Regions from separate parts of the Homo sapiens genome. Here regions 1, 2, 3 and 5 are each reported to be linked to region 4. The links are microRNA targets in miRTarBase. Many come from high-throughput screens and were not tested one by one. Region 4 holds a microRNA gene; each other region holds the end of a gene's coding sequence.

Evidence for each region. The annotated mature microRNA hsa-miR-124-3p reads UAAGGCACGCGGUGAAUGCCAA and lies in region 4 at 2,793-2,814, opposite strand. An mRNA with a match to its seed (bases 2 to 7 or 8) in the 3' UTR can be bound and repressed. Matches are read on the target gene's strand: a 7mer-m8 pairs with bases 2 to 8, a 7mer-A1 pairs with bases 2 to 7 and ends in A, and an 8mer does both.
Region 1: miRTarBase lists TARBP1 as a target of hsa-miR-124-3p. Seed matches in the 3' UTR shown: 7mer-m8 at 5,171-5,177 and 8mer at 5,032-5,039.
Region 2: the mRNA of ANO1 is a reported target of hsa-miR-124-3p. The part of its 3' UTR that is shown has no 7-base or 8-base seed match.
Region 3: the mRNA of TGFB1I1 is a reported target of hsa-miR-124-3p. The part of its 3' UTR that is shown has no 7-base or 8-base seed match.
Region 5: the mRNA of MYH7B is a reported target of hsa-miR-124-3p. The part of its 3' UTR that is shown has no 7-base or 8-base seed match.

The regions. Positions count from the first base shown.
Region 1 is chr1:234,386,399-234,392,418 of GRCh38, forward strand. It overlaps TARBP1 (tRNA guanosine 2 -O-methyltransferase TARBP1), which reads right to left. Exons shown (of 30, transcript NM_005646.4): 29 at 6,018-6,020; 30 at 4,915-5,347. The coding sequence ends at 5,179. Among named protein-coding and RNA genes, the nearest start is that of COA6-AS1, 16 kb to the left of the region's middle.
Region 2 is chr11:70,187,109-70,193,128 of GRCh38, forward strand. ANO1 (anoctamin 1) reads left to right here. Exons shown (of 26, transcript NM_018043.7): 26 at 630-2,422. The coding sequence ends at 896. Among named protein-coding and RNA genes, the nearest start is that of FADD, 13 kb to the right of the region's middle. RefSeq lists an enhancer at 4,805-4,864.
Region 3 is chr16:31,476,393-31,482,412 of GRCh38, forward strand. TGFB1I1 (transforming growth factor beta 1 induced transcript 1) reads left to right here. Exons shown (of 11, transcript NM_001042454.3): 9 at 89-170; 10 at 470-618; 11 at 918-1,566. The coding sequence ends at 1,184. Among named protein-coding and RNA genes, the nearest start is that of SLC5A2, 3.7 kb to the right of the region's middle. RefSeq lists enhancers at 1-618, 619-1,351 and a silencer at 645-734.
Region 4 is chr8:64,376,004-64,382,023 of GRCh38, reverse strand. It overlaps MIR124-2 (microRNA 124-2), which reads right to left and starts at 2,875; the gene lies at 2,767-2,875. It overlaps MIR124-2HG (MIR124-2 host gene), which reads right to left. Exons shown (of 3, transcript NR_109792.1): 2 at 3,535-3,965; 3 at 1-421. RefSeq lists an enhancer at 4,881-5,458.
Region 5 is chr20:35,001,207-35,006,402 of GRCh38, forward strand. MYH7B (myosin heavy chain 7B) reads left to right here. Exons shown (of 45, transcript NM_020884.7): 42 at 39-143; 43 at 225-320; 44 at 742-879; 45 at 971-1,231. The coding sequence ends at 982. It overlaps TRPC4AP (transient receptor potential cation channel subfamily C member 4 associated protein), which reads right to left. Exons shown (of 19, transcript NM_015638.3): 16 at 4,489-4,597; 17 at 3,252-3,364; 18 at 2,204-2,410; 19 at 1,198-2,077. The coding sequence ends at 1,940. Among named protein-coding and RNA genes, the nearest start is that of MIR499B, 13 kb to the left of the region's middle.

The DNA.
Region 1 (6,020 bases), not on the chromosome of region 4:
TGCAAGAGGCCTAGCTTTTGGCCTGTGTCAGCTTTTGACATTGGCTTCCTCACTAAGCTCTTTCATTTCTAGCTTTTGATTTAAAGCGAGAGACGTGCCACTTTTCCTTTCACTTGAACACTTTAGAGGCCATCAATAGTGTTATTAATTGGCCTAATTTCAATATTGTTGTCTCAGGGAATAGGGAGTCCTGAGGAGAAGAGAGAGATGGCAGCCAGTGAGAGGAGCAGTCAGAACACACAATTTTTTTTTTTTTTTTGAGATGAGTCTTGCTCTGTCACCAGGCTGCAGTGCAGTGGCATGATCTTGGCTCACTGCAACCTCTGCCTCCTGGATTCAAGCGATTCTCCTGCCTCAGCTTCCTGAGTAGCTGGGACTACGGTCGCGTGCCACCATGCCCAGTTAATTTTTGTATTTTTAGTAGAGACGGTGTTTCACCATGTTGGCCAGGCTGGTCTCAAACTCCTGACCTCAAGGAATCCGCCCGCCTCAGCCTCCCAAAGTGCTGGGATTACAGGAGTGAGCCACCACACCCAGCCAGAACACACACATTTATCAGTTAAGTTCACCATCTTACATGGGTACAGTTTGTGGCACCCCAAAGCAATTATAAAAGTAACATCAAAGATCACTGATCACAGATCACCATAATAGATGAAGCAATGAAAACATTTGAAATACTGTGAGAATTAGCAAAACTAACAGAGACACATGCTGTCGGGAAAATGGCACAGATAGATATGATTGACACAAGGTTGCCACAAACCTTCAATTTGTAAAAAATGCATTATCTGTGAAGCACAATAAATCAAGTGCAATAAAATGAGGTATGCCTGTATAAGGGAGGATATGTATAGATTATATGCAAATACTATACCATTTTATATAAGAAACTTGAGCATCTGCAGATTTTGGTATCTGCAGAGGGTCTTGGAGCCAATGCATCATGGATACTGAGGGACGACTATACTGTGTTCATGGATTAGAAGACTCGCTATTGTTAAGATATGGTTAAATTCTCTCCAATTTGATCTATAGGTTCAATACAACCCCAATCAAAATCTCAATAAGCTTTTTTGTAGATATTGACAAGCTGATTCTAAAATTTATATGGAAAAGTGAAGGAACTAAAATAGTCAATTCTAAAAGGAAGAACAAAGTTGGAGGATTCACATTACTTGATTTCAAGACATATTTGGAAGGTACAGTAATCAACACAGTATGGTATGGGCAAAACGAAAGATATAGTTTAATGGAACAATAGAGACCCATATAATAGTCAACTGTGTTTGGACAGAAGTACAAAGGCATTTCAACAGAGAAAGGATAATCTTTTCAACAAATAGTGCTAGAAAAATTGGATATCCAAACACACCAAAAAATAAACTTTAACATCCTTACGCTTGGTACAAAAATTAACTCAAAATGGATCATAGAGCTAAATGTAAAATGTAAAACTATAAAACTTGAAGAAAATATGAAGAAGTTCTGCATGATCTTGTGTCTGGAAATGAATTTTCAGATAAAGCATCAAAAGCACAATCCATACAAGTAAAAGCTAAATTGGACTTTATCAAAATTAAAAACTTTTGCTCTGCGAAAGATACTCTTAAAATAATGAAGGTAAATTACAGACTGAGAGACAATGTTTGCAAATCATATATTTTATGAGGAACTTGCATCCAGAATAAATCTTGTAATTCTCAAAATAAGAAAAACAATCCAGTTTAAAAAATAAGATTTTGTACATACTTCTTAGAAGGTATACTCTGAAAAATATATCAAAAGATGCTCCATGTTACGAAACATTAGAGTAATGCAAATTAATACCACAATGACATAATCACTACACACCTATTAGAGTGGCTTGAATTAAAAAGTTGACAACACCAAGTGCTGCCGACGATGCAGAGCAACAGTCATTCACTGCTGCTGGCTATGGAAAAAATAAAGCCCCGTTGGAAAACAGCTTTTTTACAGAGTTAAACATACACTTACCTTATGACCCGGTAATCACACTCCTAGGTATTTCACCGAATGAACTGAAAACAAAACCTGTATATGAATATTTACTCAAAGCAGCTTTATTCATAATCACCAAAACCTTGAAACAACCCAGATGCCTACAACAGAGGAATGGATAAACTGCGATACATCTATGAATGGGATACCACTCAGCACTAAGGAAAAATTAACTTCTGAGTCACACAACATAGATGAGCTTTAAATGCACTTTCCTATGTGAAGAAGCCAGATCCAAAAGGCTACATACTATATGCTGCCATTTATAAGATTCTGGAAAAGGTGAAACTGAAGAATAGAGAACAGATCAGTGGTTACCAATGGTTGGGATAAGGAGAGGGGTTGACTATGAAGGGGTCACCCAAGTAAACTTTGGGTGACAAAACTATGGCACTGTGGTGACAGATTCATGAGTTCACACTTGTCAAAATCCAGACTGTTCACTATAAAAAGTGACCTGAATGCACAAATAAAATCAACCAGGATATAGGGGGGATTACAAGATGGAATGCAGGTCGTGATGAGTCTAGTTGTATTATAAAATATATGACATAACCCTTTTCAAAGAGGTGGGTAAGAAAGGGACTGACCTAGGTAACTGGAAAATGGTGTTTTGACCAGATACTGTAAGGCTACGGACAAAAAGAACTGTACACAGTTGCTAAATTTGCAATTCTGAAACTACGTTTACATTAGGATTGAACAAATAAGTAAATATAGATAATGAGAACCAGGTCTAGGTCAGAAAAAGCAGTTAAAAGCAAGAGGTGAATGTTAGAATGAATCCTGTGGTGCTGGATTGTGTCAGAGATGTCAGTACGAAGTCACGTTTATGTTCACCTATCTAGACTGATAAAGGCAGAAACATCATAGATATGTACATACATGGGTTGGTAGACATACACAGATCCCCTAGTTCCATCCACTGACAGGGCTTGTAATTTGCATAGCATCCAAATACTCCCCCAAATATTAATTACTGTGGTAATTTTAACAGGTGCTCCTGAATTCTTTGATACTCCTCCCTCCCACAGAGTTTACACTCCCTACCCTTTAGTACAGACTGGGCTTAGTCATTCACTTTTTTTTTTTTTTTTTTTGAGACAGTCTCGCTCTGTCACCCAGGCTGGAGTGTGGTGGCACGATCTTGGCTCACTGCAAGCTCCGCCTCCCGGGTTCACACCATTCTCCTGCCTCAGCTTCCTGAGTAGCTGGGACTACAGGCAGCCACCACCATGCCCGGCTAATTTTTTGTATTTTTAGTAGAGACGGGGTTTCACCGTGTTAGCCAGGATGGTCTCGATCTCCTGACCTCGTGATCTGCCCGCCCCGGCCTCCCAAAGTGCTGGGATTACAGGCGTGAGCCACCGCGCCCACCCTAGTCACTCACTTTTAACAGACTAAGAGGACAGGTAGCAACTTCACAGAGAAGAATGTGGCAAGCGCAGCCTTCATCCATTGATGGGGGTAGTCCATCCTGCTGGTGCCATGAGCCGCCTAACACGATGTGATGGGAAGGCACCTGACCACTGGCATGTTCTTCCTTAAAACCCACAAACTCAGTCTAATGAGAAAACACCAGACAAGCCCAAATTATGGGACATTCACAGAATACTTGGCCAGTACTCTTCAAGTGTCCAGGTCATGGAAAGACAAGGAAAGACTGAAGATCTGTCAGAGATATGAGGAGACTAAGGGAACACACAATGTGGTATCCTGGGTTGGCTCCTGGGGCAGAAAACAGAGTGGAAAACAGAGTGGAAAATGGGAGATTTGAATAAAGCCTATAGTCTAGTGAAGAGAGCCATTATCAATGGTTACTTTCTCAGCTTTGATGAAGGTTACCATGGTTATTAAGATCACATTAGAGGCATGTGGGTGAAGGGTGTATGAAAACTTTGTGTACTCTCTTTGCAACCCTTCTACAAAACAGTCATTTCTAAAGAAAACTGCAGAAGAAAATATTTACAGGTAATGGGCTCAAATTTAAATATTATTTAAAAGGACCCAGATATAATTGAAATTCATTGCTGGGTAGTGATAAATAGTTACTCATAAATAATTAAGTAATAAATGCCAGAGGAAAAAAATTGAAAGAACAGAAACAATCAACACTTACAGGTTCCATTCTGTTGCGATAAAGATATACAGGAGTAATTCAACTCCTTTAGGTCCATGTTCATAGTTGTCAGAATATAGACTATTTCTAACCACTATTTGATCTCTGTGTGCAAAGGTGATATGAAAAACTTCATATAAACTTTTTTTTTTTTTTTTTTTTGAGATGGAGTCTCATTCTCTCATTCAGGCTGGAGTGCACTGGCGCAATCTCGGCTCACTGCAGCCTCTGCCTCCCAGGTTCAAGCAATTCTCCTGCCTCAGCCTCCCAGGTTCAAGCAATTCTCCTGCCTCAGCCTCCCAAGTAGCTGGGATTACAGGTGCATGTCACCACACCCAGCTAATTTTTGTATTTTTAGTAGAGACAGGGTTTCACCATGTTGGCCAGGCTGGTCTCAAATTCCTGAGCTCAGGTGATCCACCCGCCTTGGCCTCCCAAAGTGTGGGGGGCGTGAGCCATAGCACCTGGCCATAAACTTACTGTGAATGATTATGGCCTAGTTCATGGCTTTAAAAATAAATTAAAGCCTACTACCTGAGCATTCTGAGCCTCACAGGGATGCTGGCTCTGCATCCTGCCAAATGTGTTCCCGAGGGGAGTACAGAGACGGAAAGCGGCACAGAGGCTGATGACCCCTCTTCATTCGGAACCTTTGCCTCAACCTCCCTGGTCTCCATATGACTCAAGGGTATGAGTGTTCACAGATGATCGCTGCTTTAACTCTGCTTTATCATAGTCCACACTTCTGACAAAAGGCGTTTCTAGGAAATAAATTCTCTCTTAAAAAATCCATTGTTTTATTTCCACAATTGCTTAAAATATTTTATTAAAGGAAGAATACAATTTAACAAAAAGTGTTTATTAAAGGGGAAAATATATAGTAATATGTTTAAGGCACATGGCAAACTTTTGGCATTAAATTGCAAGAAAAAAGAAATACAAATTATCACAATAAATTTCAGAATCTGTTTCTTTAGTCCAAATAGTTTTTTTTAAAAAAGTCTGAACAGCAGCAGCAGTTCACTAAGGAAGGCACATCATGGCTTGGTATCTCCGTGCGAGAGCAGCTGCTGCCTGGTGTACTCCCAGATCAGCAGGGCTCCACTCACATGGACATTCAGGGAGCGGATAATGCCCTGTTGAGGAATTTCCACACAAACGTCCAACTGTTGGATCAGATTTGCTGGAATTCCCTCACGTTCATTTCTGAGGAAGAAAATGGAAGAAAGATTAGTTTTCCTGTAACAAACAATTTTTCTCTTTGATATTCTTTTTATTTTTTGTTTATTCACTTATTTTTCTCTTTGATATTCTGAATGTTACTAAAAGAAACATTAACAAATGAAGTTAAGTCTGTAGTACCGGGAAATAAATAAGAGTGTAAAAAAAAAGACTGATGGGTCAATTCCATGTTCAGCTGGCCATGCCAGAGAGATGAAATAAAAGGAAAGCCCAGGGAGCTTCTTATAAATGTTACAAATCAAAGAAAAGTGCAGGTATGAGCAGGAGTCAGGGTAAACTGTAAAACAGAAAAGTAACATCTTCTAGCCAGGCACGGTGGCTCACGCCTGTAATCCCACCATGGAGGCCAAGGCCAGAGGATCACTTGAGGTCAGGAGTTCGAGACCAGCCTAGCCAACATGGTGAAACCCTGGGTCTCGTGGAGCATGCCTGTAATCCCAGCTACTTGGGAAGCTGATGCCTGAAAATTGCTTGAGCCAATGAGGCAGAGGTTGTAGTGAGCCGAGATTGTGCCACTACACTCCAGCCTGGGCTACAGAGTGAGACTCCGTCTCAAAAACAAAAAAAAACAAGGTAACATCTTCCAGTAGTCTGGGGCTCAGAGAATATACTATGGACACAAGAAGCTTCTTACCCC
Region 2 (6,020 bases), not on the chromosome of region 4:
AGCAGCCAACCCCAGCCCCAGCTGGGGACTGGGAGCACCAACCAGGAGAAGACACCAATCCAGGGGGCACCAGCACCGCCCGTGGCGGGAACCTGCTCAGCCGGGGGTGCTCACACGTGCTTGCTGGACAGATGTTCAGCAAACAAGAAGATTCCGTTTTTCCATAAAAACTGACTTATGTTGCCTTCTATCCACCAGAAATGTCTCCGTGGAGGTGGTAGATGTTCAGGGAGACCCTGGGACGCTTTGCAAACTGTAAAAGTTTGATCCATTTGTGGCTATTTCCAGTTTCATGTTTTTCCCCAAAGGCTCGATGCTCGTTAGATTTGGCGATGTGTGATCCATCAGGTCACTTCCTGAGTCTCCTGATCAAAGAATTCAGAATGACTCAGATGATTTTCCCAATTACTGAGTTCAGATTTGTTCGAGAAAGTCGGCCAACATTTCCCAGAGGCCTGCCGGGTGGTTCTATGCCTCCTTTATAGCTTCTGGAAAACTGAGGCCCAGGGAGGTCAATGGGCCAGGAGGTGGTGGGGTGGCACTCCACCAGATGGGGGCCAGGCAGAGAGGTCAGGAGCACTTCCCCAGGCGCCATCCTCCCTTCTGCCACGCGTTGCCTCTCCTTCCAGAACCTGGTCATGTTCATGAGCGACTTTGTGGACTGGGTCATCCCGGACATCCCCAAGGACATCAGCCAGCAGATCCACAAGGAGAAGGTGCTCATGGTGGAGCTGTTCATGCGGGAGGAGCAAGACAAGCAGCAGCTGCTGGAAACCTGGATGGAGAAGGAGCGGCAGAAGGACGAGCCGCCGTGCAACCACCACAACACCAAAGCCTGCCCAGACAGCCTCGGCAGCCCAGCCCCCAGCCATGCCTACCACGGGGGCGTCCTGTAGCTATGCCAGCGGGGCTGGGCAGGCCAGCCGGGCATCCTGACCGATGGGCACCCTCTCCCAGGGCAGGCGGCTTCCCGCTCCCACCAGGGCCCGGTGGGTCCTGGGTTTTCTGCAAACATGGAGGACCACTTTCTGATAGGACATTTTCCTTTCTTCTTTCTGTTTTCTTTCCCTTGTTTTTGCACAAAGCCATTATGCAGGGAATATTTTTTAATCTGTAGTATTCAAGATGAATCAAAATGATGGCTGGTAATACGGCAATAAGGTAGCAAAGGCAGGTGCTTTGCAGAAAGAATGCTTGGAAACTTGAGTCTCCCTAGAGGTGAAAAGTGAGCAGAGGCCCGTAGAAACCCTCCTCTGAATCCTCCTAATTCCTTAAGATAGATGCAAAATGGTAAGCCGAGGCATCGCGCAAAAGCTGGTGCGATGCTTCAGGGAAAATGGAAAACCCACGCAAGAATAATGATTGATTCCGGTTCCAAAAGGTGTCACCTACCTGTTTCAGAAAAGTTAGACTTTCCATCGCCTTTTCCTTCCATCAGTTGAGTGGCTGAGAGAGAAGTGCCTCATCCCTGAGCCACACAGGGGGCGTGGGAGCATCCCAGTTATCCCTGGAAAGCTAGAAGGGGACAGAGGTGTCCCTGATTAAGCAGGAAACAGCACCCTTGGCGTCCCCAGCAGGCTCCCCACTGTCAGCCACACACCTGCCCCCATCACACCAAGCCGACCTCAGAGTTGTTCATCTTCCTTATGGGACAAAACCGGTTGACCAGAAAATGGGCAGAGAGAGATGACCTCGGAAGCATTTCCACAGATGGTGTCAGGGTTTCAAGAAGTCTTAGGGCTTCCAGGGGTCCCCTGGAAGCTTTAGAATATTTATGGGTTTTTTTTCAAATATCAATTATATGGTAGATTGAGGATTTTTTTTCTGTAGCTCAAAGGTGGAGGGAGTTTATTAGTTAACCAAATATCGTTGAGAGGAATTTAAAATACTGTTACTACCAAAGATTTTTATTAATAAAGGCTTATATTTTGGTAACACTTCTCTATATTTTTACTCACAGGAATGTCACTGTTGGACAATTATTTTAAAAGTGTATAAAACCAAGTCTCATAAATGATATGAGTGATCTAAATTTGCAGCAATGATACTAAACAACTCTCTGAAATTTCTCAAGCACCAAGAGAAACATCATTTTAGCAAAGGCCAGGAGGAAAAATAGAAATAAATTTGTCTTGAAGATCTCATTGATGTGATGTTACATTCCCTTTAATCTGCCAACTGTGGTCAAAGTTCATAGGTGTCGTACATTTCCATTATTTGCTAAAATCATGCAATCTGATGCTTCTCTTTTCTCTTGTACAGTAAGTAGTTTGAAGTGGGTTTTGTATATAAATACTGTATTAAAAATTAGGCAATTACCAAAAATCCTTTTATGGAAACCATTTTTTTAAAAAGTGAATGTACACAAATCCACAGAGGACTGTGGCTGGACATTCATCTAAATAAATTTGAATATACGACACTTTTCTCACTTGAATGCTGTCTGCCTGACGTCTGCCTGGGAAACTCACAGGCCGTCCCCAGAGTCCAGTGACCCTGCAAACTCAGCACTGACGGACAGGCATCTCTTTCCTTTGGTGCCGGCCTGCGCATGGCTCTAAATGTTCTTGGGACTTCATCTTTCTGTACGTGTGTGCATTTGTGCATGCACATGTGTGTGCCTATTCATTTGCATGTGTTTTGCATGCATCATGTGCACGCATGTTCGCATTTGCTTGTGTGCATGTGCCTGTGTCTTTACATGTTTGTGTACATCACGTGTGTATGTATGCATTTGTATTTGCTTGTATTTGCATATGGGTGCAGGTGTGTGTGCATGTGGACACGTGTGCATATATGCATGTGTGTGTATATGTCTATGTGTGCATGCACGTGTGTATACAGTGCGTGTGTGTACTTGTGAATGCCTGTGTTTATGTGTTTGCATGGTTTATGTATGTATTATCCGTTCTCACACTGCTATAAAGAACTACCTGAGCCCAGGTGTGGTGGCTCACACCTGTAATCCCAGCACTTTGGGAGGACAAGGCGGGTGGATTGCTGGAGGTGAGGAGTTCAAGACCAGCCTGGCCAACATGGCAAAATCCCATCTCTCCAAAAAAAAAAGTTACATAAAAATTAGTCGAGCATGGTGGCGCACACCTGTCATCTCAGCTACTGGGGAGGCTGAGGCAGGAGAATCACTTGAACCTGGGAAGCAAAGGCTGCAGTGAACCGAGATCATGCCATAGCACACCAATCTGGGTGACAGAGTTAGACCCCATCTCAAAAAATATATAAATAAATAGAACTACCTGAGACTGGATAATTTACGAAGAAAAGAGGTTTAATTGACTCACACTTTTGCATGCTTAACAGGAGGCATGACTGAGAGGTCTCAGGAAACTTAACGATCGTAGCAGAAAGCAAAGGGGAAGCAAGCACGTCTTCACAATGGTGGAGCAGGAGAGAGCGAGCAAAGGGGACAAGTGCCACATTTTCAAACCATCAGATGTTGTGAGAACTCACCCACTATCACAAGAACAGCATGGCGGAAATGCGCCTCATGATTCAACCACCTCCCACCAGGTCCCGCCCTCGACACGTGGGGATTACAATTTAACATGAGATTCAGGTGGGGACAGAGCCAAACCATGTCAGTGTGCATCACCCCAGGGTTCACACACGTGTTTGCCTTTGCCTGTGTTTGTATATGCATATGTGCTGTGTGTGTGCATATGTGCCGGTGTGTGTGCATATGTGCTGGTGTGTGTGCATATGTGCTGTGTGTGCATATGTGCTGTGTGTGTGTGCATATGTGCTGGTGTGTGTGCATATATGCTGTGTGTGCGCATATGTGCTGGTGTGTGTGTGCATGTGTGCTGTGTGTATGCATATGTGCTGTGTGTGCATGTGTGCTGGCGTGTGTGTGTGCATGTGTGCTGGTGTGTGTGTGCATATGTGCTGGTGTGTGTGTGCATGTGTGCTGGTGTGTGTGTATATGTGCTGATATGTGTGCATATATGCTAGTGTGTGTGCATATGTGCTGGTGTGTGTGTGTGCATGTGTGCTGGTGTCTGCATATATGCTAGTGTGTGTATGCATGTGTGCTTGTGTGTGTGCATATGTGCTGGTGTGTGTGTGCATATGTGCTGGTGTGTGTGCATATATGCTAGTGTGTGTGTGCATGTGTGCTGGTGTGTGTGCATATGTACTGGTGTCTGAGTGTGCTTGTGTGTATGCACAGATGTACCACATATTCCTCTGTGTTTGTGTGTGTGTGTGTGTGTGTGTGTGTGTGTATGTTGGGATGGGGGATTGTGGTCACACTTTCTAGCAGGCTCTTCCAAGAATCCCATATCTCGACCTCTGATCCCACAACCCAACAGACTAGTATTTAGGGTTTCATGGACCCCAAATTTCTTCAAAACGTTTTGGGACTGACCTTGGGTTGTCAATGTTTTCATTTGGGCAAGTGGGGACATTTTTTTAGAACCGTCACCTATAATCACTATCACTTCATAAAAGAACGTATATTTTTAACAGCGTCAGCAAAGCAGTATGGCGCTTCGGGCTGGGGACAGTGTCCTTGTGCGGCCCTCGGCGTCGGCCACCTTCCCTTCACCGCCAGGACAAGGCAGGGCCTCTTTCGACCTGTGGCAGGCCTCGGGCGCCCCCTTGTGCTGGCTCTCCTCAGCACAGCGCCTTGCCACCTTGGTCAGGCGCATCCTCCTAAAGCTTGGGCCCCACATTCTCGATCCTGTAGGGAGGGCCCAAGGAGAACGGCACCCACTTTCTCAATCCTGTAGGGAGGGCTCAGGGAGAACGGCACCCAGGATTGGCATCGCGGGAACCCCTTCCCTCTGCCCTCCTGTCTCCATGGGTCCTCCCAGAGCCTGGGAGGGCACAGGTGGGGACCTTCAGCCACATCTGATAGATGAGGAAACAGGCTCTTGACCAAGATCTCAGGGCGCTTTAATGCCAAGTCTGAAGGCCAGACCTCATAAACATGTATGGAACATTCAAGAAACATTTATTGAACTCCTACTGTAGGCCAAGTGCAGCGGCTCATGCTGGTAATCCCACATGAGGGATTACTGCATTGAGAGGCCCAGACAGAAGGATTGCTTGAGCCCAGGAGTTCGAGACCAGCCTGGGCAACATAGCAAGACCCTGTCTCTACAAGAAATAAAAAAATTAGCTGGGCATGGTGGCGGGCACCTGTGGCCCCAGCTACTCGAGAGAGTGAGGTAGGAGAATCACTTGAGCCCAGGAGGTCAAGGCTGCAGTGAGCTATGATTGCATCACTGCACTGCAGCCTGGGCAACAGAGCAAAACCCTGTCTCAAAAAATAAATAAAAATTAGACCAGGTGCAGTGGCTCACGTCTGTAATTCTAGCACTTTGGGAGGCCGAGGTGGATGACTTGAGGCCAGGAGTTCAAGACCAGCCTGGCCAACAGAGTGAAACCCAGTCTCTAAGTAAAAAAAAAATATATATATATATATATATATATATATATATATATATACACACACACACCAAAAAAAAATGAACTCCCACTGTGTGTCAGGCACTAGGACGAGAAGGGTGAAGAACAAGGACACAGCCCCTTCCCTCCCACATGACATTCTCACAAAGGAAGTCCAATGCTGAACCAGAAAATCAACCGTGGAACCAGACAACTTCAGAAAAGGGAGCGCTGATGAAAATCCAGCAGGGAGTGTGACTGACTGAGGGTGAGTGACTACACTGCGCAGGGAGGCCCCTTGGGACTTGAGCAACAAGGAGCCAGAAACACACAACAGTCGGTGCACAGGCCAAGGCAGCAGCTGCTGGACGAGCTCCAGGAGCAGAGGGGCAGGGAGGTGACAGGAGACGCAGGAGAGGTGGCTAGAGACGACTCATGCAGGGCTCCGGCTGAGTGAAGACTTTGAACTTGGTGGTAGGTGCCATGGGCAGGGCTGGGCAGTGTCTATGAGGGCAGTGATGGGATCTGACTTATGTTTGGGGTCATGGCTGCTGTAGGGTGGAAACTGCAGCCAGTGCCGCTATTATACAGATGGGCACAGGAGGCTCAGA
Region 3 (6,020 bases), not on the chromosome of region 4:
TGCCTTAGTCCAGTCACCCGGGTTCCGCGCGGGAGAGGAAGGCGCGAAGGCACGGAGGCCGCGCTGAGTGCCCTCTCCCTCCCTGCAGAAGATGGTGACCGCCTTGGGCACTCACTGGCACCCAGAGCATTTCTGCTGCGTCAGTTGCGGGGAGCCCTTCGGAGATGAGGGTGAGAGTGAACTCGACTCCCATCTTAAAAGCTGCGGGTCCCCTCGACGTCTCGCCCCAGCCCCTCCGACCTCCGGAGTCCTCAGGGCCATGGTTTTCCTTCTGCTCTCTTCTGGCCCTGCCCTCTCCTACACAGACTCCGGACCCGAGCCCTCCCCGCTCTGTCCCGCCATAGACCCGGCTCCTCCTTCCCCAAGGCTCCCTCGGACTGCCCCTCCTTCGGCCCCAGATCTCAGGTCTTGTGGGTCCCCCGTCCCGCCCGCACCCTTTGCTTTCAGCCCACTCGGTTCCCTCTCCTAGGTTTCCACGAGCGCGAGGGCCGCCCCTACTGCCGCCGGGACTTCCTGCAGCTGTTCGCCCCGCGCTGCCAGGGCTGCCAGGGCCCCATCCTGGATAACTACATCTCGGCGCTCAGCGCGCTCTGGCACCCGGACTGTTTCGTCTGCAGGGTGCGAGCTGCGGGGCGGGGCGTTGGAGGGGCGGGTCAAGGGTACAGGGCTGTGGGGCGGGGCCTTGGAGGGGCGGGTCAAGGGTGCAGGGCAGGGGGCGGGCCCTCGGGGGGGCGGGTCACGGGAGGTGCTGCTAGGAACCTCGGGTGGGGCGAGTTTTCCGGGCAGGGTCCCACCGGACGGGATTCTTCGCGTCTAGGGCGGGCTGCGGGGTCCCAGGGCGTTATCCGCTAGTAACGCGCGTTGTCTGGCAGTGGCCGCTGACCTGTCTGTCCTCTTTCGCGGCTTCCCTTCCCCAGGAATGCTTCGCGCCCTTCTCGGGAGGCAGCTTTTTCGAGCACGAGGGCCGCCCGTTGTGCGAGAACCACTTCCACGCACGACGCGGCTCGCTGTGCGCCACGTGTGGCCTCCCTGTGACCGGCCGCTGCGTGTCGGCCCTGGGTCGCCGCTTCCACCCGGACCACTTCACATGCACCTTCTGCCTGCGCCCGCTCACCAAGGGGTCCTTCCAGGAGCGCGCCGGCAAGCCCTACTGCCAGCCCTGCTTCCTGAAGCTCTTCGGCTGACAGCCCGCTCGGCTCGCCCTCTCCCCCGGAGGCCGCGCCCTCCCGGAAAAGCCGGGTCCTCCAGACCCCGAGGCCTTGCTCTCAGAGCGGGAGGCCCCACCCACTGGAGAGCCCCGCCCCTAAGGTACTATGAGTCCTCAGGGGTCAAGTTCAGAAACGGCCCAGCCAGACCTAAACCCACACGCCCACAAAGTGGATTGCACACAGACAAGAACTCCCGTGCGGGCCTCCACTCTATTCCCACCCTTGAGGGAGCCCCCTTACTGGGGGAGGGTCCTTGCAATTCCAGCGAATCGGAGGCCAGGCCAGGACGTCCTTGCTCCCTGCACCCTCACTGTTCTGTGCACTTTTTCTACCTACATAAACACACGCATTCCACCTCTCCCTGGTGCTGTCTCTGAATGCGCGCAGGAGCTTGGCCCTGACTCCCCACCCCCGCGCTGGCTCTGTCCCCGGCCGTCTCTAGGTCACTGCCCTGTGGCCGCAGCGGGACCTGCAGCCTCAGCCCTTGCAGGTAGCCACTCCTGCACTTCCTACTTCAAGTATCAGATGAGCCTGAGGCTGGAAAGTGTGGCGACTCGCGCAGGACTGTACAGATAGTGGCAGAGCCAGGACAAGAGCTCCAACTGGGGCCCCACCGAATATTCCCGCCCTCATTACTCTTTCTTCAGTTCTATATTTTGTTTTGTTTTGTTTTGTCCTAAGAGATGAGGTCTCACTTTGTCGCCCAGGCTGGAGTACAGTGGTGCCATAGCTCACTGCAACCTCGAACTCCTGGTCTTGAGCGATCCTCCCGCCTTGGCCTCCCAAAGTACTGGGATTGCAGGTGTGAGCCACTGTGCCCGCCCTTCCCTTTATTCTTGAAATAAGCGCTTACAGTGGTTCATGCCTGTAATCCTGGCACTGTGGGAGGCCAGGGCGGGTGAATCACTTGAGGCCAGGAGTTTGAGACCAGCCTGGCCAACATGGGGAAACCCCGTCTCTACTACAAATACAAAAATTAGCTGGGTATGGTGGCACACGCTTGTAATCCCAGCTTCTCTGGAGGCTGAGGCAGGAGAATCAATTGAACTTGGGAGGCAGAGGTTGCAGTGAGCCGAGATCACGCCACTGCACTCCAGCCTGGGCAACAGAGCGAGACTCCGTCTCAAAAAAAAAAAAAAAAAAAAAAAAAAGAAAGAAAAGAAAGGAAGAAAGAAAGAGAAAGGAAGAAGGAAGGAAGGAAGGAGAGAGAAAGAACTTAATCTGCTCCCCTCCTGCACTGCCTTTGGTTCCCAGATTTTTTCTCCTATTAAAGGGCCTTGAGGGATGGAGCTCTATTCAGAGTGCCAGCTGTGCTCACCTTTTGGTTCTGGGCACTAAGGTACAGCTTCCCTCTTACTATTGACCCACAACATCTTGGATCACCTGAATGTTTCATGTAGTTACGGCCTCAGCTTAACCCTTTCTCACTCCCACCCCCAGGTGTCCCAGTCAAGGCAGAACAATCAGCGCACTCAGAGCCATTACTTACTGTCCCTGCTGGCCTGTCTGCCACCACCTGAGGCTTCTCCCGGCCTAGCCCTGTGCTGGGTGGTGCTGGGTCCAGAGATGAGTCAGGCTCACTGCCCTGGAGAGCCCCAGGCTGAGGAGGCAGATACCTGGACAGAGGATGACACTTGGTGTGGCCAGGTTGTGACTGAGGGAAGCACTGGGGGCTGTAGAAGCCAGAAGGTGGCTTCTTAACCCAGACTGGGAGTCAAGGGATGCATCCTGGAGTAACTGACACCCAAGACCTGAGCCAAGTCCTAGCAGAGAAGGATGGGGCCAGGGGTTTTCAGGTGTGGAAGATGGAGCCAAGGGTTTCAGGTGTGAAGAAGTTCAGGTTCCATCTGAGTCCCTAAGTCCCAGGGTGGTCCCCTGGGTCTAGACTCTAGGGACCTCTGGTGCTGGAAATGATAGGTCCTCAGAGCCCTTTCCAGCTCATCAGGAAGAGCTAGAAGCCGCAGGGAGCATGTATGGGCACAAGGAAAAGGTGAGGCGTCCATGGCCCCAGCCTCTCCCAGGCCCCCAGATCTCTTCCTCTCTAAGGCTCCTCTCCCATGGTCTTCCCAGGTCTCCTGCTCTTCCCCTTCCACATATTCTCCCCAAAGAATGTACCCCCAACCCCAGCCTGTAATCACCTCCCTATCTTGAGGATGCCCAAATTGGCATTCATTCATTCACCAAATATTTATTGAGCACTCCTGTGCCAGGCTCTGGGGAGACAATGGGGAACCAAGCAGCTATGACCCTTGCTTTCAGGGAGCTGAAGTCTAGTAGCGGAGACAGATGACAGCCAAGTACAAAGGTGACATGCGTGATGAAGGAGCGGTACCTTCCCGACCGCCTAGCTAAAGCCAATGCTTCCCTGGTTTCCGTGCCACGGCCCCTCCCTAGTTCCTTCCTAGCATGCAGTGCTCTTGCAAGTAGGAGTTTTTGTTTTTGTTTTTTTGAGACAGAGTTTCGCTCTGTTGCCCAGGCTGGGGTGCAGTGGTGCCATCTGGGCTCACTGCAACTTCTGCCTCCTGAGGTTGAACCTCTGGGTTCAAGCGATTCTCTTGCCTCAGCCTCCTGAGTAGCTGGGATTACAGGCTTGTGCCACCACTCCTGGCTACTTTTTTTCTGAGATGGAGTTTCGCTCTTGTTGCCCAGGCTGGAGTGCAATGGCGTGATCTCAGCTCACTGCAACCTCTGCCTCCCGGGTTCAAGAGATTCTCCTGCTTCAGCCTCCCGAGTATCTGGGATTAGAGGCATGCACCACCACACCCGGCTAATTTTGTATTTTTAGTAGAGACGGGGTTTCTCCATGTTGGTCGGGCTGATCTCGAACTCCTGACCTCAGGTGATTCACCCGCCTTGGCCTCCCAAAGTGCTGGGATTACAGGCGTGAGCCACTGCACCCAGCCCTAATTTTTATATCTTTAGTAAAGACGGGGTTTCACTTTGTTGGCCAGGCTGGTCTCGAACTCCTGACCTCAGGTGATTCCCCTGCCTCAGCCTCCAAAAATGCTGGGATTACAGGCATGAGCCACCACACCTGGACCTTATTGTTTCTGGCTTCTGTCTGATTCTGCAACCGGAACAGAAGCTCCCGAGAGCAGGCAGTGCATTTGTTTTGCTGACCATTTTCTCCCTGGTGTCTAGAACAGGTCCAGTACATAGCCAGTCTCCATACGTGTTTGTTAATGAAGGAAGGAACCAGGAAGGAAGGAAAGAGAGAGAGTACAATGGATGAAATAGAGAACTAAGTTAGGGGAGGTGGGGAAGAGATTACTTTCACCAGGTAGTAAAATGTAAGGTCTCAGCTGAGAGCCGAACATGGAGAAGGAGCCAGCTGTGCAAGGCGCCAAGGAGAGCATTCCCGGCAGACAGGAAGCAGGTGCAAAGGCCAGGGAGGAGGAGAGAGTCTGATGCCTTGGAAGAAAGAAGGCCACTGTGGCTGGACTGGAGCCAGCAATGGGGAGGCCAAAGAGGAAGGAGATGTCACATCATGAAGGCCTTTGACGGCCGTGGTGAAGGGACCTTATCTGAAATGTCTGTAACACACACGTGTCCTCTGACACTTGGCACTGGATTTCTCTCAGGCACTTTAAACTCATCACCCTCTGAAGCAGACACTGTGGGTGCCCCACCCATATACCTGCATGGCCCACCTTGGAAGTCATATACTGTGACAGTTTCCAGATACCCTGACTTGCAGCTCCTTCTGGAGTTTCTTGTCTGAGGCTGTTCTTGGGAGGAGGGAGTGTGCTCCGTGTTCTCAGCAGGCCTGAAGTGTGTGGACATTTCTGCAGCTTTTAGCCAGTGACAGACACAAATCAGGGAATAGATACCCCAACCACCTGGCCCCTCAAGGAACATTGCTATGGGGTGTTCTTCACAGTGTCTCAGAGTGTCCTTTTTGGGATGAGGCTCCAACTGCTCTTTGTGGTAACCTGACAAATGACACACCCTTACGCCAGGCGTGGTGGCTCACACCTGTAATCCCAGCACTTCGGGAGGCTGAGGCAGTTTGGCTCAGGATTTTGAGACCAGCCTGGGCAACACAGTGAAACCCCATCTGTATAAAAAATACAAAAATTAGCCAAGTGTTGTGGCGTGCCCGTAGTTCCAGCTATTTGGGAAGCTGAGGTGGGAGGATCCCTTGAGCCCAGGAGGTCGAGGCTGCAGTGAGCTGTGATCACACCACTGTACTCCAGCTTTGGTGACACAGCAAGACCCTGTCTCAAAACAAAGAAACACATGCTTTGTTGGTTTTTCTCCTTGTTTCATTTCTCTTCCCTACACCATCACAGTCCATACTGGAATCACCTCCTCAGGAAAGTCGTTGCACACAAATTCTCATCTCAGGGTCTCCTTTTAGAGGAATACAAGCTAAGGAACTCCTTCATCCAAACTCTGTCATATTACACTCAAAGCATTTTTCTCTGTTCCCCATCTCCGGGATGACCATCGCTGCCATAATCAGGCAGGACTTTCCTTCGACTGTCTCCTGACATCCAAGTCTGGTCAATTCTTCTAGAAAGGTAGACATACAGATATTAACCAGCCTCTCCCTTCTTGAATCCAGTCCTGTGCTGAGAAATGAGACTCCAGGGATGAATCAGATCAGTCCTGCTCTTTTTAATTTTTATTTATTTATTTTTTAAGAGATGAGGTCTCACTCCGCTGCCCAGGCTGGTTTCAAACTCCTGAGCTCAAGTGAGCCTCCTGCTGCAGCCTCCCAAAGTGCTAGGATTACAGGCATGAGCCCCCACACCCAGCCAGTCCTACTCTTGAGGAGACACTAGTTTGTTGGGAAGACAGACCTGGACC
Region 4 (6,020 bases):
AATTTCTTTCATAGCAGGAAAATTTGTAATGGGCATCAAACTGGATGATTATTTTCCAAAGAAATAGGAAGTACATAGTCTTAAAAATCTAGAAACATCACGGATCAATAGCCACTCGATTTCATCTAGGCAACCGAATTACTAAATTGAGTGTTTCCCTTTTTAAGCAGTATTTTAACCTCTCTCATATCACGTATTTCATTTCTATTTAGAAAGCAATTTTAAACTGATCAAGCTTTCTGAAGGACAAGTTTAGATGATCCTAAACAGGTAGGATTAGGCTGAGGGGATTAGGTTTGCTCCTCTGAGGTAGTATGAATTCTAAAGGAATCAGGCAGGACGATTTTGCAGCCCTGGACCATAGCTGCTTTGTGGATTACGCAAGATGTGGATGCAGGAGATCAGCGCAATTGGATGAATACTGGAAGGAAAAAGCAAGGCCGCCATGATAACGTGTAATGCTTTAAATTCATTTCTGCTTCCAACGACTGCTTTTAATTGGCACAAGAGGAATATTCCCAATCCTTAAATTTTGTAATTCGAGCAGCCCCTATTTTCCAGTGTGCTTTACCCACCCACTCCGAAATTGGATAAAATTAAATATAAACCAAAGTAATCGATGAATGTGAAAGACCCGACTTGCAGAGTTCTAAAATTCGAGGACAGATAAAATCCGCCCTGAGGCAGGGGGTGAGAAGGCAGCTCTCTGAGGATATTGCACCTGGCCGCTTTATTTCATGAATTTTATGATACATCTACATCCCGTGTAAAAAAAATAACTTAATGAACACATGTCTTTTAGGTCATTGTCAATGCATGGCCCATTGTTATACCTGGATCAAAATCGGTGTTGCTGTCTCTATTGTCCAACCTGAATTATTTTGTCTGTTACTAATTTTAACACCCTTTATGTTTGTGAATTTATAGACAAACTCAAGCAAATGCATAGAAATTTCTTTTGAGAAATAGCCAGCCAGGGTGGCTACGAATTGGTTGATTTTCCGTCTCTCTCTCTCTCTCTCTCCCTTGCCATTTTGATTCATTACTTAGGGAATTTAAATTTGTATTGTTTACATTTAATACTTTCAACATCTAAGAACGATGAAATATGCTAAGAAATTTAGATTTTTGAATATATCAATACTGACTCATCCAACCTTCGATTTCTAAGGCGAATTTTCACTGCATAAGATTTAGTAAACCGCCCTGCCTCTTTCCGTCGCGTGAGCTATGAGGATGTGGCTGAGGTCGGTTTTTCCGCAGTGCGGGTTTCAGGCCTCCTGGCCCTCCAGTGCCTCCCGCCGGCTGGGATGCGCCGAGCAGGCTCCTGCGCAGCAGAGCGGTCTGCAGAGCTCAGCCCTCTGTACCCGTCTACTAAGGCTGCCGGGCTGCAAGGCCTGGCCGAAGGTGGCAAGCTGCATGGGCTCCTGCCCTGTTTCACCTGGTGGGTCCCCGACCCACCCCTTCCTAGTTAAGCCTCGAGGCCCACACTTGAGTCCATTGCACGTCCCTTTGGTGACCAAGTAAGCACTAAAATCCGCGGCTGAGGACCTTATGTTTCTGTTTTAAGGAAGATGATTTAAGAAAGAAAAGGATAATAATAAAGCCTTCATTCTCCTCAATTTCCTTCTTGCAATCCTGCGATTTAGGTTTCAGCCTAAATAAAGTGGAAATGGTTTCCCCATACACTTACAATGTATGTATGTGTGCATTCCTACGTGAAGACCAAAAAGTGTCAGGCAAGGGTAGCAACCAGCTTGAGGGAACGATTTCAGTAAAATATTGTTTTGCTGTATGTGACCTTTTTCTCTTTTTAAATGTTATTTTTCAAATTACCTAATATCCTACTCTTCTTTTGAGTAGGGACGGGACGGTCCTATTGCTTTTCCAGTTTGATTACGGAGAGAGAAAAGGGCCACGGTCAGCACCGCGGACAGCGCCAGGCAGGGAGGGCGCGGCTACTTTGGTGCATCCTCTTAGCTCCTCTCCTTTGTTCCCAACCCCTGCAGGCCAAGGCAGAACAAAGACATCAAGGCTCGCTTTTTCGGCCTGGGTTTTTCTTTGGCTCCAAAGTCGTGGTGCGGAACTGCTACCTCAACATAGTCCACCTCACTGGCTTCCAAACAAATTAATTTACCGAGTCCTTCTAAAGTTTCTGACCTGGTCCTTTCACCTTATCCCACTCCTTTGACCGATTTGGACATTGCGACAATGCCAAAACAAGAGAGTTATCTTGGCGTCTTAAAGCCAGGCATGAACGCCTCGAGATTGGGAAGAAAAAGGGAGAAGTCAAGGGGAAATGCGGGCGGCAAGTGTTCTTCAGATCTTTCCAAAGTTTGGACGTTTCATTTGCTGTTTCTTGCGCAGTGTGGTCAGGACGCTATTTAATGTTACACCTCTCTCTGCTGTTTTGTTTTCCCAGCTTGGCCCAGGACTGCAGACAATCACACTACCTGTTCTTGAAAGAACTAGTGCTTTCTAAATGATTTAACTCTCTGGAATATTTGCACAGGCGGGAACTACTGCTCTCCAGACAGCTGTCAATGAAGCTTCCCTAAAATTCTCCTCGGAGATTTGCCTGCGGATTTCCGCGGCTGTAATGGAAAAGTAGGAGCCTTTCCCTTTCGAACACTAGGTTGCTTCCAGAATCAGTCCTGGGTGGGGGTGGGGGGCATTTATGCGGCAAGAGATGGGTTCCTTTTACTACCCCCTAAATTCCCTGCAATTGCTTTTTCCCCTTTCTGACCCTGAGATGCTTTGGTGTCCTTCAAGTGCAGCCGTAGGCTCCGCTCTTGGCATTCACCGCGTGCCTTAATTGTATGACATTAAATCAAGGTCCGCTGTGAACACGGAGAGCAGAGCCTCTAATCTTGATCCGGAAAGTATAAGACCCACTGCGATTACCACTCTTCTCTCCCTGCCCATCCCCCTCTCTCCGCTCTGAGTCTCTACCCCTAGAGTCATAACTCATAAGCCCAGCTCCTGTCTCTGCTCATCTCTGACACATCTGCCAGAGCCGCTGTTAATTAGTCTGTTCCGTGGAAGTGTAGACGGTGCGTGTGCCTGCGTATACATATGCATATATCTCCATGCCATTTACAGCACACGCCTAAAAACATACATAAGCCTATAAATCTAGTTTTCAAATGACGGCGTGGATCCAAGTTAATTACCCCTCTGGTACAGATCTAATTTTGTAATCGTGTTATTTTACTGAATGCAATTAACCCAGTTGGTTCGCCCTGAATCCTTTCTAAGGCACTTGTAAGGAATGGCAGGTTTTTAAGGACCACGCTATTGCATGTTCTCCGTCATAACCATTGCCAATCATTTTCTGCTGTCAGGGATGAAATCTAGCATATAAAAGAGAAAACCATGCGTGTGTGCCTGTAAGATAAACACACAGATATGCCTGGGCTCTGTGTCCTTTGATAACGTTACCGCGGGTTTGGTTGGGAGATTTTGGGAAAAGAGAGTCCAAGGGCGGGCTGGGTCATCTTTCTTTGTAATGCGGAAAAATTAACTCATCCGCACCTGCCTAGTCCCGAGAGAGCTGGGCGGCCCATCTGGTCTGGCTACAAGTTTGCTGCGGAGAGAAAAGCCTGCTCACTAAAGCTTCCCCACTGCCCAGGAGCGCGGACCTCGGGTCTGGGCCCGGAAGAGGGATTAGGCTCAGGGCAGCGCAGCCGACTCGCACTCCTCAGCCAGTGGCCACAGTCTGGGGCTGGAAGCGCCTGGGCCGGGCGGAGGGAGGGCAAGCAGGAGAGAGAAAAGGGTGAGGGAAGTTGACCTCTACGGGCGGAGCCCTCTGCGCAGCGGGCAGGAGGCAGCGGGCGCGACGGCTCTTTTCACGGCGTCCCCTACGGCGTGGTCGACCCGAGGGAAAGGCCCGCTCCCGCTCCAGAGTCCGAGGAAAGGAGAGAGAGCTGAGAGCTGGTCTTGCGCAGAGACCCCAGAATGCGCCCCTGAAAAACAGAATCAAAGCGCAGTGTTAGGGAGGCGGGAGAGAGGAGGGGGAGGGTGGGGAGAGGGACACGAGGCGGGAGGGAGCATGCGAGGGATACAAGGTGACAAGAGGACAGGACCCCAGTCGGCCGGTCGCGACCTCCGTCCCCAGGCTTCAGGGGGACGCGGAGGGGACCCTGAGCCCACGGAGCGCGGGGCCCGCAGCCCGGGGGGAGGGGGTGGCGCGATGACTGTAAGCGCAGGTCTGGGCTGCGGAAGTCCAGAGGAGGGTGCATGCGCTGCGGATACTGCCGCGTCCAGAGAAACGATTTCGGGAGCTGGAGCAGTGAAAACGAGTCCGCAGATGGTCCTTCTGTGCAGTCCCAGCCGTTCCCGCATTCTGCACCCCCTTTCCCAGCCTCACCCCCTCCCTTGGACCACACGCCAGACCCGCACTCTCGAATCTCCACCCCTCTTCGTTTAGGACCCTGCAAACTGCAAGACCGGCAAGAGAATCGAAACGATCGATGAGAGAAAGAATTACATATACCCATAGCCCTAGAAATCCGGAGAGAGACCTGCTAGCCCTGTTCAAACCTGCAGAGGACCAAAACGTTTTCAATCGCTGCTCAGCGCGTTCGCAGAGGAAAGAAGAGGCTGAGAGCCTTCCGTGGTATAAGGTGCTTTAAGGTGGGAGGTGGGGGTAGGGAGGGGGTGGGTCGGAGCGGTCCGGTCTTTCCCCCTCGCTTGCTGATCCAGAATTAGGGATTAATGGCTCGCTCCAGCCAAACAAATAAGGCATCTGCCTTCAGCACAAGAGGATTACACGGGCTGCTGACGTCACCAGTCAGACAGATGTTGGCTCCCAAAGTCCTGAGCAGCTCGCTGTGTCCTTGAAACCAAAGAGCCGCAGAAGGCTCGCAGCCCCCAGTTGCAGAGCCTAGGTACAGCAGAGGGCAAGAGCCCTGCCCTTGCCGACAACCTCTTGGCGTCAACCCAGTGCCCGCAGGCAGCTCCCTAAGACGTCGAGCTTCCAGCCTCTCCAAGCGCTCCCTTCGCCGTCCTGCTGTCAAAACCCAGGCTCTCTCAAAACAAGCCAAAGTCACCGTTCTCAGTTGCCTCTCCCTAACATGGAGACAAACGCCCACAACCCAGTCGACACCTTATCTAGATCCCACATTTAAGCTCTCGGGCTCCTGTTCACTCACACTCGGTTGGCCAAGTAACAGGAAAATAAGCACCTTAGGCCGGACACAGCCCACGCTCCAGCTGAGGGACCGCCTCTTAATTATGTGCGCAAGCAGCAAAAGCAGAGCTAATCTGCATCTCCTCTTCTCAACCCCGCAGCCTGCCTTCCCCCGAGGCCAAGGTTTAGGTTTATGTTTAATCTTATCACGAATGCCATTCCGGACGAATGTGCCTTTCAAAACAATGACGCTTTGCCAACCTAACTCAGCGTCCCAACCAGAGCCCTGGACCACCACTCGGTGAACCACGGGGACCTCACCATGGTCCTGATTAGGACACGGAAAAAATGTCATTGCATATTCTTCTCAAGTACTTTGAATACGTTGTCTAAAACTAAAATATTAAAATAAGTATGTGTGTTCAAAATATATGTAGCATCTAATTCCAGCAACCTGCACATTCAAAGAACTGCAGTTTCATTTTATAGCCAAATCTGATGAATAAAGATCAAAAATTAATTTATTTATAAACTCCAAGGTCCTTTTAAATGATGTAATTTTAACTTAATTTTAATTATGAACTATTTTAATTCTTCTAACCTGCATATTGTTTTTGCTTTATATGATTTTCCAGGCCTTTACAGGTCACACTAAAGTCAGGTTATGAAATAAGCTAAAAGACACATCAAACTGGAAATTTAAATGAGCAATTTTGAATAAGTTATGTAATCCACAAATGAAATGGTTTTAAATGAATTTTAATTCTGTAAAGGAGTAAAGACTATTCAAACAATGTATAAAACAAAATAAGCTGATCTCCAGCACAGACCCACACTGAACCAATCCTGTGTCCCAAATCTAATCAGTATATATGAAAAAATCTGTGAC
Region 5 (5,196 bases), not on the chromosome of region 4:
GGGGTGGGCTTGGCATCAGGCTGTCCCCCTGCCTGCAGGTACGGGAGCTGGAGGCTGAGCTTGATGCAGAGCAGAAGAAGCACGCCGAGGCCCTTAAGGGCGTGCGCAAGCATGAGCGCCGTGTCAAGGAGCTCGCATACCAGGTGGGCGACAGGGTCTCCCTGGGGAGTGGCCCTGGAGCTGGCCCAGCCCAAGCAAGCCCTGAGTCCCCCTTGCCCGCCCAGGCCGAGGAGGACAGGAAGAACCTGGCTCGCATGCAGGACCTGGTGGACAAGCTGCAGAGCAAGGTCAAGAGCTACAAGCGCCAGTTTGAGGAGGCGGTGAGTGCGCTGGGGCCTGGACACCTGGACCGGGCACCCCAGCTCTGCCCCAGGGTCTGTGGCCAGGTGAGGCATCAGCAGCAGCTCCACCCTCCAAGGTCAGTGACCCAGAGGGAAGAGAGAAGCTTCTAACATCTCTGGGGAGATCAGACCTAGCTCCTTCTCATGGAACAGACCCCATGTGCTTTCCCCTGGCCAAGGCTGGGGCTGCCTCTGAGGGGTGGGGCAGGCACAAAAAGGCACATGAAGTTGGTGCGTCCCAACTTCCTTATTCCCGCTGTGGTATTGGTGAGGATGGACAGTGGCAATAGGAACAAAGTTGAGAACCAGGAGGAGCTAGCTCCCTTCTTGGACTGGGGCAGGGACCAGAATAAGCATCTCAGTCACCCAAGCGGAACCAAGGCCCTGTGTGTGCCCCCAGGAGCAGCAGGCCAACACCAACCTGGCCAAGTATCGCAAGGCCCAGCACGAGCTGGATGATGCGGAGGAGCGGGCAGACATGGCGGAAACCCAGGCCAACAAGCTGCGGGCACGGACCCGGGACGCCCTGGGCCCCAAGGTGAGGAGTGGCAGGGGCATTGCTCTCTGTGCAGGGGGACTGTGGGGGCTGACAGGTAGTACTGCTCACTCAGCTATCCCTTTCTCCTCAGCACAAGGAGTGACGGCCTGACCCCCTGGGCTCTAAAGAGGAATGTCTGCTGTTGCACATCTGGCTGAGGCCACCTGCCCCGATCCTGCCATCTCTGCATCGCCCCCTGCTGCCTTCAGCCTTCCCTGGGCCCTGAATAAACACCACAGCCAGTTTCCTTCTCATTCTTTTCTTTGGGGTTCAGGAGGAAAAACACAGTCCTAGGGACAAAAGCCAGGTCCACAGCAGTCATTTTTAAAATAAAGTTATTTAATAGTCTCCATTTAATTGGTTTATTTGCTGTTAATAAATTGGCAACACAAGGAAGGGCCCCATGTCCAGGCTCAGGCAGGAGCGGCTGCCTCAGGCAGAGGCAGGGCAGGCACAGCTGCCCCGTGCCCCAAGGGATGGAGGGAAAGGCCCCTCACTTCTGGGAGAACCCCCTTGGATGAACACAGCGGCCAATGAGCAAACAGAACCAGAGGAGCTACAGGAAAATGAGGCAGAGGGGCAGGCTTGGGGGAAGGCAGCATTCTCTGGTACCCACCACCCCTGCCCAGGGCTCAGAAGCCTTTGCCTGGGTCCAAAGGCCAGGGACAAGGGAGGCTTGGCTCACAGATGGGGGGTGGGGGTCACCCATATCTTCCTCCCCACTCTGGGACTGACTGACAGCCAAGAAACCGGCAGGAGCTCACACAGAGCTAATGCTAAATGTCCTCTTACCTCTGGGTGGCCCTGGGCCCCAGGGTTCTGAAGGAAAGGTGGGCATGGTACCCTGTCCTCATTATGGGGACTGAGGCTCTCCATGACCTAGGGCCCTCAGACCCAGGGGGACCAAGGGCTTCTAGGACTTCCCTCCCACCAAGCCTGTACCCAAAGACCTGGGGCAGGCAGAGAGCAGCAGGGAGGAACGGGAACAGGGCAGGGCGTGTGGCATCGTACCCACGCTCACCCACACTGGCCCAGCAGCCTCCCGAGGCCTGGCCCAAGGTCACTCCTCAGTGAAGTCCCTGTCTATGTCCATGTAGGGCTCCTCAATGTAGCTAACGAGAGCAGAGGGTGACTGCCGGTCCGGGTTCAACAGGATGGACACTGTCTCCTTCCAGTATGAGAAGCTGATGCAGGAGCTCTGGGCAAAGAGGGAGGGGCTGGGGGGCGCCTGGAGGACCCAGGTCAAGCCCAGCACCGGGACACCCCTCTGAGAGGCCCTGGGTCCGCGGCCCACCCATCACCCCCTTGAGGGTGGGGCACTCACGTTCTCTAGGCAGGTGCTGTCCTTGTCCTTGTGCAGGTAGTGCTGCTGCCAGAAGCGCAGCAGGTTGTGGAAGTTGTTGAGCAGGAAGCCGGGGTACTTCTTGCTGTGCTCCATCCGCTGCAGCAGCCGCAGGTACAGGGGCAGCCGCTCTTTCCGTCGGGCCAGCATCAGGATCACCAGGCTGGTGTTGAGGCAGCTGACGTTCTCCTGCAAGGCCACAGGCCCACAGGGTCAGGGGCTGGTGGGAGCCCCAGTGGCCCCTGGTGAACCTGGGTAGCCATCAGGCAGGGAGGAGAGTGGCCCCAGGCCTCGGGCCACCCACAGAGCTCTCCCTGCACAGAGGTGAGATAGGACTGGGGGAAGGGGGCCCCCAGCAGCCCCAGTTTCCTGACTGAGCACCTTCCTCTTCCCCACGCCCACCTCCCACCCCACCTGAGGCAACAACACCTGTCCCTGTCCAGACCTGGGCTCAAGCATCACTCCTTCCGGAAGGTCCGTCCCAGGCAGGGCTGGGTGCGTGTGTTGGGGCGGTTATCCCGCTTCAGAAGTGCCATTCAGCACTAGCCTGCGCGCCTCGGTGGGGAAAGAGTTCTGCCCCACTCACCATGCACTCCCACCTGGTGCTTCACCTCAGAACGGAACCAAAGACCACCTCTGAGAGGTGCTAAGATCACCCTCACTCTAGAAAAGAGGGGCAGGAGGCTCAGAGAAGGGAAGGCTGCATGACTATTCAGTGAGGGAGTTGGGCAGCCTCAGGTCCGATTCCAAAGCCCAGCAGGGCAGAAGGTGTGAGGGACGTGGACATGGGGGAGGCGGGGAGAGCACTGGCCTGCAAGTCAGCCTGTGACCTGAGGGCACTTGCGAGCCCTCCTTCCTTAGGCCCTGTCTGTACAATGGGACACTGATTCCTCCTGAGCACAGTCCTCAGAAGAGCTGGGTCTCCAGAGACGCACTTCTGGAGTGGGGGACAGAAACCTGCTGGGCACCAGGACAAAGGAAGTGGTTTCCAATCGACCTTCCCTGCTGTGTGTCTGCCGGGGCCTCTCACCTGGGTCAGCGTCTGCACGTGGATGATGTTGATGAGGCGGAAGAGGAAGGACATCTGCGTGGGCACCTGGGATATGTAGGCGAGCAGGCGGCATTCAGACAGTACCTCGGCAACTGTGGAGGGAGGCAGGGGTGCAGCAGGTCAGGCTTAGGCCCAGTGGCTGGGTCGCCCAGGCCTTTCGTGGAGCCCCGCTTGGGTCCTGACTCTGAAGCTAGGAGCTCATCATCAAAACAGCTTCAACGAAAGCTGACTGTGGCAGAAAGAAGGACCTCCAGCTGTCCTGCTACCAGGCAAAGCCATGTTCTCAGAGTGCCCAGGAGCACCCCACCTCATCCTCCAGAACCAAGCTCAGGGCAGCTCTCCCTCAGCCCTCCCCAGACTGGCTCCAGACCCGTGCCCTCCATATCACACACAGAAGAGTTCCCTCCACAGGAAGATGGATCCATGACGCTGCATTAAGAAAAACAACGCAAAAGTTCCACTCCTTCTGCAGAGGTCCTAGCGCAACTGGTTTTCCACACCAGCTCTCAGGTGAGTCCGGCCCAGTGCTGAGACCACAAGGCACAGGTTCTGCTCCGTCCACTAGTGTCGGAGCAACTGCTTCCCGCACAACTGGGAGGCAGGGCAATAACCGAAGGTACCAAAATCTGTGTGGCTGTTCCCCTGAAACAGACCCTCTGGGGCAGAAAAAGGAAGCAAACGGCTAAATTACCAACAACCGGGATACTTCTTGCTATCAATGACAGTGACCGTGACAAGGAACAAGTGCCTGACTTTTTGGGGGTGTGGGGGGGTCACAAACCCTCAGGAGAATCTGCTGGATGCCACAAGCCCTCTCCTAGGAAAAAAAGGAAACGCGTGCGCATACACATGGAAGTGCGTTAGCAAGTCCAGGAGGGTTCAGATGCCTGCTGCACCACAGGGCACCTGCGATGCCACGCACAGCACACTGAGGACGAGGGGGCCAACTCATCGTGCCAGGCAATACCAGCCCAGAAGAGGAAGGTCTTTTTCTGGTTTTCTTTGCATCTTGCTAGCAACAATGGATTTTCACCTTATTAAAGTGTTGAACAAGGCAGCAAAGCCAATTGCCCTGGAAGCCGCCACCTTGAGGCCGGCCACGTGGGCATCTGGTGCAGCTCCCTCAGTCATTCTTGTCTCCCTGCTGGAGACAGGGTGTCTGATGCCAGCATTCTTACCCTGCATGACTTGCCTTGACAGCCTGCCTTTCATGTACCTTTCATATCCACCTGGTTTTCAAATCGGTCCAGGGACAGAGTGACACAGCGCACCAGCATGTTGGAGTCCACCAGGGAGCTGTTGATCTGCTTCAGGAATACCTGGAACTATACAGAAACCAAGCTCACAGCAGGCAGTGGGCTGCTGGCCAGGTATGGCCATGGCCCGGGGGGATAGTCACTACAAGGGGCATCAGCGACCTCTACCAGCCCCACTGCTTCAGATAGGAAGACAGAGGCTCAGATAAGCTGAGGGACCTCCCCTCACCACCCAGGTACTAAGAGGCACTCCCCGGAATTCAGCACAGATCCGACACTCTCTCCAGTGGTTTTACGCTCAAGGGTGCTGGATTCCTTTAATTTTTACTTTTAATTTTACTTCAGCTAGCCTGAGCTGGGTTTCTGTCACACACACTCGGTGAGCCTAACACACCAGGCCCAGTCCCTCCCTACAGCGGCTCCCACCGTGGCACCCACCATGCTGCGTCACGGCAGGCGCACAAGCCACCCATTCCCACCCTCACTCCCTACCCACAAGCAGCCCCGGTTTTCATCCCTGCATTCCCAGGGTCTAGCACAAAGCCAGACAGAGCAGGTTCCAATGAATGTTTGCCAAAGACTGCCCAGACTCCCCCGTCGTCTCTAACGTAAAACCTGTGCCTAAAGCCTGGCAGACCAGGACTCCAGGTGAACTTCTGGACAACCCA